2 linked regions of the Homo sapiens genome follow. The protein of the gene in region 2 purifies or fractionates together with the protein of the main gene of each other region. This does not show direct contact. Each region holds a gene or a part of one and is shown on either strand. Other genes may lie near its edges.

Region 1 (3,988 bases), on a different chromosome or scaffold from region 2:
TTCAGAGTGAGACTGTTTCAAAAAAAAAGAAGAAAAGAAAAAGCTGTTGTTTGATGGATGAATCTGTTCACATGCCTTTGGTTGGAGTAAAAGAAGGGATAGTATGAAACCTGTACTCATCTGGCTTAAACAAGATGGCAGAGTCTAATTTGGGTGATGTCAGTGCCTCACTGAGGTCATCAGAGACTCAGATCATTTCTGTCTTTATTATTTTTCTGTATTTTTTTGTAGAGACAGGGTTTCACCATGTTGTCCTGGCCGGTCTCGAACTCCTGGGCTCAAGTGATCCTCCTGCCTCGACCTCTCAAAGTGCTGGCATTATAGGTGTGAGCCACAGTGCCCACCCCATTTCTCTCTTTAAACTGCTGTCCTCCACATGTTGTCCTCTGCTAGCCCTTATGGTCCCGTGCTGACTACAGCTAGGTGTCTCATCAAATTAAGTAGTGCCTAGCAGTAATAGGGCCTCTTCCTCTATAGTTTTTTTTTTTTTTTCATAGGTGCATTGGCTGGAAATACATATCTTTTTAAGACAACTGTTTGTTTATTTCCCCTGTGGGACCCCATGCCACTCTCACCCCTCACCAGGTAGACTTCTCATCTTGGCCAGCATTGGGTCACAATGCTTTTGTCTGAACCAGTCACTGGCTGGGAACATGGGATTACTGTGAGTGGATTAGATCATCAGGATTCACTTAGGAGAAATACAAATGTCTAGACAATCAGGCTGAGTCAGCCTGAAAGTGAAAGGTTGTGACTATGGGGATAGTCTGCTGCCTTGGGAAAAACAAATATGAAGGGTAAAACTGTTGAAGAAGGGTCCAGCAGAATCATTGTGAGTGTTCTCTTTCAGATGGGGGGTTGGGCATAGGTGGATTATTTTTAAGTGTAAAGTCCATTTGTAAAGCCAGATTTTGAAATGGAAGGCAGATTGTTTTCTAGGAGCAAGGGCATTGAGGGAACAAGAAAGAGTGGAGACCTATAGGAGGGGGGCATTAGTTTCAGCAGGAAGCAGGGGCCATCTCTTTTTGAAGCTGGAGGACTGGAAGAACAGAGTTAATGATAAATGAATGGCTTTATTTGAGCAGGAACTCATGCTGGCTCTGTGTACCTGGGCCCATCTACCCACCCCACGTTTCCTTACTTTAGCCATCTAATTCTTTGTATTGCCTTTTTTTTTTTTTTTCACTTTGTGTATCTAAGTCCTGTGTGTTTTTCTGAATCCATCTTGTCCATCTCTTCCATACTTAACATTTTAACTAACCTAAATACAACAGCCCACTCTGTGTGGCCCCTCTGGGTACCGCCGATTTCAGGATCAAGACCAAAGTTCTCATCGTGGCTCTGGAGGCCCCGCAAGATCTTTATATCCCTTTTTCTTATTTCCAATGACAAGATTTTAAGAGCAAATCAGAAACCCATCACACACAGGAAAGGAGGAAGAGGCAGGCCTCAAAAGCAGTGAAAAAAGGCCGGGCGCAGTGGCTCACGCCTGTAATCCCAGCACTTTGGGAGGCCAAGGTGGGCAGATCACAAGGTCAGGAGATCGAGACCATCCTGGCTAACACGGTGAAACGGTGAAACCCCGTCTCTACTAAAAATACAAAAAAAAAATTAGCCGGGCGTGGTGGTGGGCACCTGTAGTCCCAGCTACTCGGGAGGCTGAGGCAGCAGAATGGCGTGAACTCGGGAGGCGGAGCTTGCAGTGAGTGGAGATCGCACCACTGCATTCCAGCCTGGGCAACAGAGCGAGACTCCATCTCAAAAAAAAAAAAGCAATGAAAATAATATTTAAATTTAAAGATTTTTAGATACTCTGTTTTTTACACACTATAGGTTTAGTCATATTTCAGTCACGTTCTTTCTTACATAATCGTTCTTGAAATTGTGTTATTACCACATATGATTTATCTTGGGCCATCTTTCCCATGCTAATTCCTATTTGTGTTTGCCTGTATCTATCTTGTCTCTAAAAAGAGAATGTTCTTAAATTGTGGGAAATGTTGTGAATTCATAGAGCCCCAGATTTATTTGTTGCCTTGGAGATTATTATGATTAACACCAAAAAGCTAGCTGATACCACAAAATGTAAAGGAAGTTTGGTTTACCTAATGTGTAAGTGAAAAGAGATAGACAAGAAAGCATGTGGTTGTTGCAGTAAATGCTGCTTTGTGGTCTGATCCCATTTTCACTTGCCCTCCATGTCTTCTCACTTTGCAGCTGGTGCATTGCAGTGGTCAGTCTCCTCACTGCTCTTCCTGCTTTGTTGCCCCTCCATTCCTGGGACATTGCACATTGCCACTGGAGCTAACTTACTTCAGAGCACTTACTGATCACGTAGCTCCTTGCCCAGTCTTCCTTGGCTCACAGCCAGGAAGGGGACTCATGACTGTTTAGTGTTGCAAGACCCTGGACTTAAGACTGCTTCTCCAATTTCCAAACCTACTGGACACTTTTAAAATTTTTCAAATAGGCCATGCTGTATCATGCCTTTTCTTTTTGTACCTGCTATATTCTGTTAAAAAATGCTGTCACTGTCCCTCCCATTGCCTCAGAAACGCTGTATGTCATGTTCTGTAGTGTGTTGATAGAGAAGGGTTTGATTTGGATTAATGAGGGGCTTTCATCCAAAATATAGGAGCTAATCATATATTCTCTATTACAGAGGCGTACTTTTCTACTGAGCAGTTCTCCAGAGACACCTTAGCCACTATTTTGCCCACCACTGTGATAGCTTTTGGTGGGAGGATCAGTTTGAATGTGTGTAACTGATATCTTCAGCACATGAGTACTTTAGCAGTGTTTTGATTAGATCTTTTCTGAAGCTGTATTCATCTCATTTTTTTGCTGCTTTCTAATTTTGCGAGTACCCTGGCATGGGAATAGGAAAAAGGGGGTGGGTAGTGGCAAATTTCTGAAGAGAAATATGTCATCTCTCCTTTTTTGCCCCCGCTAACAAAAGTCGAATTGGGAGCTTTTGTGTGTTTTCTTTTTGTTTTTTGGTTGGTTTTGTTTAACCCTTTACCTTGTGTCCCCAAACTTGGGACAGTATACTTTCTTTTGCCCCTTACTACAGGTGAACCTTCCTAAAAGATTTTTTCTTTTTATTCTCCGTAAAACATTTAAAGCATTCTTTAATGAAATAGTTTTTTAAGCAGGTTGTGTAATGTTTTCCATGTAACAGATTGGTTTATATATAGTTTGGCTGCTTCTTGCTAATAATGAAGGGTTTTCTCTCCTGATATTGTCTGAGAATCTATCATAGATGAGGTTAGATTGCCTTTGGAAAGATGCTTCTAGTTAATTCCTGTCCTATATAATTAGTTGAATTCATCTGTGAAGGATGTGAATTTTTCTTTGATCTTTTTATTTCATGAGCAGCTTTGTGAGTACATTCTCAGGTCTAAAGTCCTCACCCTCTTCTCCTATTCCCCCAGGGCCCCCAGTGAAACACACACATACATTAAACAGTGCAGTTTGTTATTTCAGGCCTTTTTCTTTGCATTTATGAAAGTAGGTCGGCATGCTGCCTCACACCTGTAATTCCAGCACTTTGGGAGGCCAAGGTGCGTGGATTACTTGAGCCCAGGAGCTCGAGACCAGCCTGGCCAACATGATGAAACCACGTCTCTGCTAAAAATACAAAAATTAGCCAGGCATGGTGGCACGTGCCTTTAATCCCGGCTACCCGGGAGGCTGAGGCATGGGAATCACTTGAACCCAGGAGGTAGAGGTTGCAGTGAGCTGAGATTACACCACTGCACTCCAGCCTGGGTAACAGAGTGACTGTTTCATTTAAAAAAAAAAAAAAAAAAGTAAATGTGTACACAAATATTTCTTTGTAGCTTTTGCCAACTTTACCTTTCTCCTTTCTTTCTGAGGGTGAGGTAGGAAATCACATGCAGAGTGAGTGTGGAAAGAGAATAAATAACCACGTGTTCCAAGGATCTTAAAAATTTGCACCAAGATGTGTGTCAAAACCAACAACATT
Region 2 (3,988 bases):
TTTTCTTTACTCCCTCCTTAACTCCCTAAGTGAAATCAAACCAGAAAGCAAACAGGAACCTTTCTGCCTCTGTGAAGTGAATCGTGTTTCTTTCAGGGGAAGTAGGAGGAAGCGGTACCTTTGTAATGGGGCAGGTGAAGTTGGTCTGACTTTGGGTCACAATTATATCTTCATCCACTCCTTCTGTTCCGTCAGCTTCTCTGTCAGCTTGAAGACCACCTAGAGGAAAATGGAGAGTTGATAAGCCTCTCTGGTCTAACGTCAAAGAAAAGGAAGGAATGGAAGGAAGGGAGGTGAAGAGTTTCTGGGGGAGCATTTGCTGTTGGCCCCCATGTAAGGACTGGATGCATAGAAACTCTTCTGCTTTTCAGAGAACACTACGGGGTACCTCATTCTGACTATTTTTGATAAGGAAACTGAGGCTCAGAGCAGTTAAAAAGAATCTTTTTTAAAGTTATAGAGAAAGTGACCAAGGGTGTGGCTTCAGAGTCAGAGAACCGACCTGGTGATCTCTTTCTTGTCCAGTGGTGAGACGCTGGGCTAGCAAGGTGCCCTTTTTTAAAGCCTCTGCTTTACAGCCTTGTGGCAAAGATTAAAAGAGATGAAGAATGTGGTATGCTTTGCACAGCTCATGGTACAAAGCAATAATCAATAAACAGTCATTACAATTAGGTAGTGCAGGGCTTCTCAAACTTTTTAGTTATAGGTATGAACTCTTTTAAGCTTTTTCTATGTGGGTTATATTTATCAATATTTAACATATTAGACATTAAGATTAAGGAATTTAAAATTCATTAAAAAATAACAATAAGGCCGGTTGCGGTGGCTCACGCCTTTAATCCCAGCACTTTGGGAGGCTGAGGTGGGCGGATCACGAGGTCAAGAGATCGAGACCATCCTGGCCAACATGGTGAAACCCCATCTCTACCAAAACTACAAAAATTAGCTGGGCATGGTGGCATGTGCCTGTAGTCCCAGCTATTTGGGAGGCTAGGGCAGGAGAATCGCTTGAACCCAGAAGTTGGAGGTTGCAGTGGGCCAAGATCCTGCCATTTCACTCCAGTCTGGTGACAGAGCGAGACTCTGTCTCAAAAAAAAAAAAAAAAAAAAACCAAAAAATTAAAAGTAACAGTAATAATCCCACTACGTGTTACCATAAACATTTTAAAAGTTAAAATTATATTTCCAGAACACCCCCCCCCATACACACAGACATACATAATGAGAAGAATGGCATTGTTTTCCATTTTTATAAATATCTTGAATGTCTGGCTTCATAGCAGCCAGTTGGATTTGGATATCTGCGTATGCATTCAATCTGTCACAATATCACATATCCTGTAGTCTCTGGGAAAATTCACTCATGAAAAGAATGAGAGTGAAACAGGCAGATGAGATCATACTATTATTATAAAGACAGTTTTGACCTTATGGACACTCTGAAAGACCCTTGGAGCACCCTAGAGATCCCTGGCCTGCACTTTGAGAACTGCTGAGTGATAGTGACAGGACTGGCTTTGAACAGAGCATGAGCTGCTTCTGAAACTGATGTTCTTTGAGTTACATCCCATTGGCCCCCAACTGAAAAACCAAACCAAACCAAAAACAGATGATAGACAACATTTGAATGGGATGATGGGAGTATCTCACATGAAAGCCATTCTCTCTGAAGAAAAGATACTTGTAATTTTGCACAGAAGTTAAAGATCAATAGCTTTTTTTTTTTTTTTTTTTTTTTGAGATGGAGTCTCGCTCTGTCACCCAGGCTGGAGTGCAATGGCGCGATCTTGGCTCACTGCAACCTCCGCCTCCCAGGTTCAAGTGATTCTCCTGCCTCAGCCTCCTGAGTAGCTGGGAGTATAGGTGCACGACACCATGCCTGGCTAATTTTTGTATTTTTAGTAGAGATGGGGTTTCACCATATTGGCCAGGCTGGTCTTGAACTCCTGACCTCAGGTGATCTGCCCGCCTTGGCCTCCCAGAGTGCTGGGATTACAGGCATGAGCCACGGGGCCCAGCCAAAAGATCAGTAGCTTTCTAAACATGTTGATGGTGTAGTCCTTTCTCCTTCCTTCTCCTTTCCCTTTCCCTTCTCTACTCTTTTCTCCCTTCCCTTCCTTCTTTAATTTTGGCAAAATAATACAGACATAAAAATGGCTTTCCTCAATGTGTGAGAGGAAGCCCTTGTTTCTGGTTCAGATGGTGTGGCATACCTTTCGGTTCCATAGAACTGATGACTGTGGGCCATCACCTAGGCCAGATGAGGTGTTTGTTTGCAAAGGCACTACAGGTTGAGTATCCCTTATCCGAAATGCTTGGGACCAGAAGTGTTTCGGATTTCGGACTTTGAAATATTTGCATAAGCATGATGAAATATCTTGGGGGATGGGACCCAAGACTAAACATGAATTTCATTTATGTTTCATATAAAGCTTACACACATAGCCTGAAGCTAATTTTATGCAGCATTTTTAACACTCATGTGTACTTGTTGCATGAGGCCAGATGTGGAATTTTCTGCTTGTGGCGTCATGTAGGTGCTCAAAAAGTTTTGGATTTTGGAGCATTGTGGGTTTTGGATTTTGGGATTAGGGATGCTCAAGCTGTACTGAGGGGCAGGGAAAGGGCTGCAGAGCTCTTGTTCAAGGTAACCTGGTGAATTAATTGCAACACAGGGATTCTGCCTCCAATTACTTTGTTTTTCTTAGAGAGTCACCTTCTTGGAGTAGACTGGTATATTTGTATGCCAGCTTGCTGTCCCCTAAACCAGCTTTTATTCTTTGAAGAAGGCAGTGAAGATCTCAGGGCTTGGGAATAACCAGTCAGAGCATTTTTAACCACTGGGCATTAAGGTGCAGTGCCTCGGGGCTTCCAGCTTTTCAGAGAGCTAAACAAACGTCTGAGACCTTAAAAACCATTGGTTGGCTTCAAAACAGAATAACAATAGTACTGAAATTACTAAATGTTAAAGGTCTATGCAAATGTGAAGTTAACTTCATTAATTGTTGATCCGGTAATCGAAAATACATAATTTGGAAGTAATATGTAGGGCTGGATTTATTTCTTCATAAACTTCATAAAAATTTCCCAGTATGGTAAGATAATTGCTGAAACTAATAGTCAATTACAAATTAAATCAGTTACTGGTAGCCAACCTATTTCCAAAGCAAAATTATACAAATATTTTTTCAAAATTTTGACAGCAAGGTTGGGTGCGGTGGCTCACGCCTGTAATCCCAGCACTTTGGGAGGCTGAGGTGGGCAGATCACCTGAGGTCAGGAGTTCGAGACCAGCCTAACCAACATGGTGAAACCCCTTCTCTACTAAAAATACAAAAATTAGCTGGGCGTGGTGGTGGGCGCCTATAACCTGAGCTACTCAGGAAGCTGAGGCAGGAGAATTGCTTGAACCTGGGAGGTGGAGATTGCAGTGAGCAGAGATCATGCCATTGCACTCCAGCCTGAGTGACAGAGCAAGACTCCGTCTCAAAAAAAAACAACAAATTGACAGCAATAAAATTATATATATATATATTTTTTATTTTTTAGTTTTTGAGACGGAGTCTTGCCCTTGTCGCCCAGGCTGGAGTGCAATGGCACGATCTTGGCTCATTGCAACCTCTGCCTCCCGGGTTCAAGCAATTCTCCTGCCTCAGCCTCCCAAATAGCTGGGACTACAGGCGTCCACCACCAGGCCCAGCTAATTTTTGTATTTTTAGTGGAGACGTGGTTTCGCCATGTTGGCCACGCTGGTCTCGAACTCCTGACCTTGTGATCCGCCTGCCTCAGCCTCCCAAAGTGCTGGGATTACAGGCGTGAGCCACTGCACCCGTCCTAAAACGATATTTAATAGGGCAGGTACCATATTATAGTATGTTTGCTGTGGGGTGGGGTCTCTGGAAATTATATTGCTCATGGCTATGATGGGTTTTCATGCTTCTCAGGGCCTGTCTTTGGTATTCATAGTGCAAGAGTTAGACTCCTAAGA

Evidence for each region. Proteins that work in one complex are often made in the same cells at the same time.
Region 1: the proteins of NSMCE2 (region 2) and WAPL fractionate together in Homo sapiens (co-fractionation; one study listed by BioGRID). This does not show direct contact.

Annotation. Positions count from the first base shown.
Region 1 is NC_000010.11:86,438,078-86,442,065, reverse strand, and holds part of WAPL (wings apart-like protein homolog), read left to right. Parts: intron 1-3,988. UniProt on the Homo sapiens protein: Regulator of sister chromatid cohesion in mitosis which negatively regulates cohesin association with chromatin. Involved in both sister chromatid cohesion during interphase and sister-chromatid resolution during early stages of mitosis.
Region 2 is NC_000008.11:125,353,450-125,357,437, reverse strand, and holds part of NSMCE2 (E3 SUMO-protein ligase NSE2), read right to left. Parts: intron 220-3,988; coding exon 119-219; intron 1-118. UniProt on the Homo sapiens protein: E3 SUMO-protein ligase component of the SMC5-SMC6 complex, a complex involved in DNA double-strand break repair by homologous recombination. Is not be required for the stability of the complex.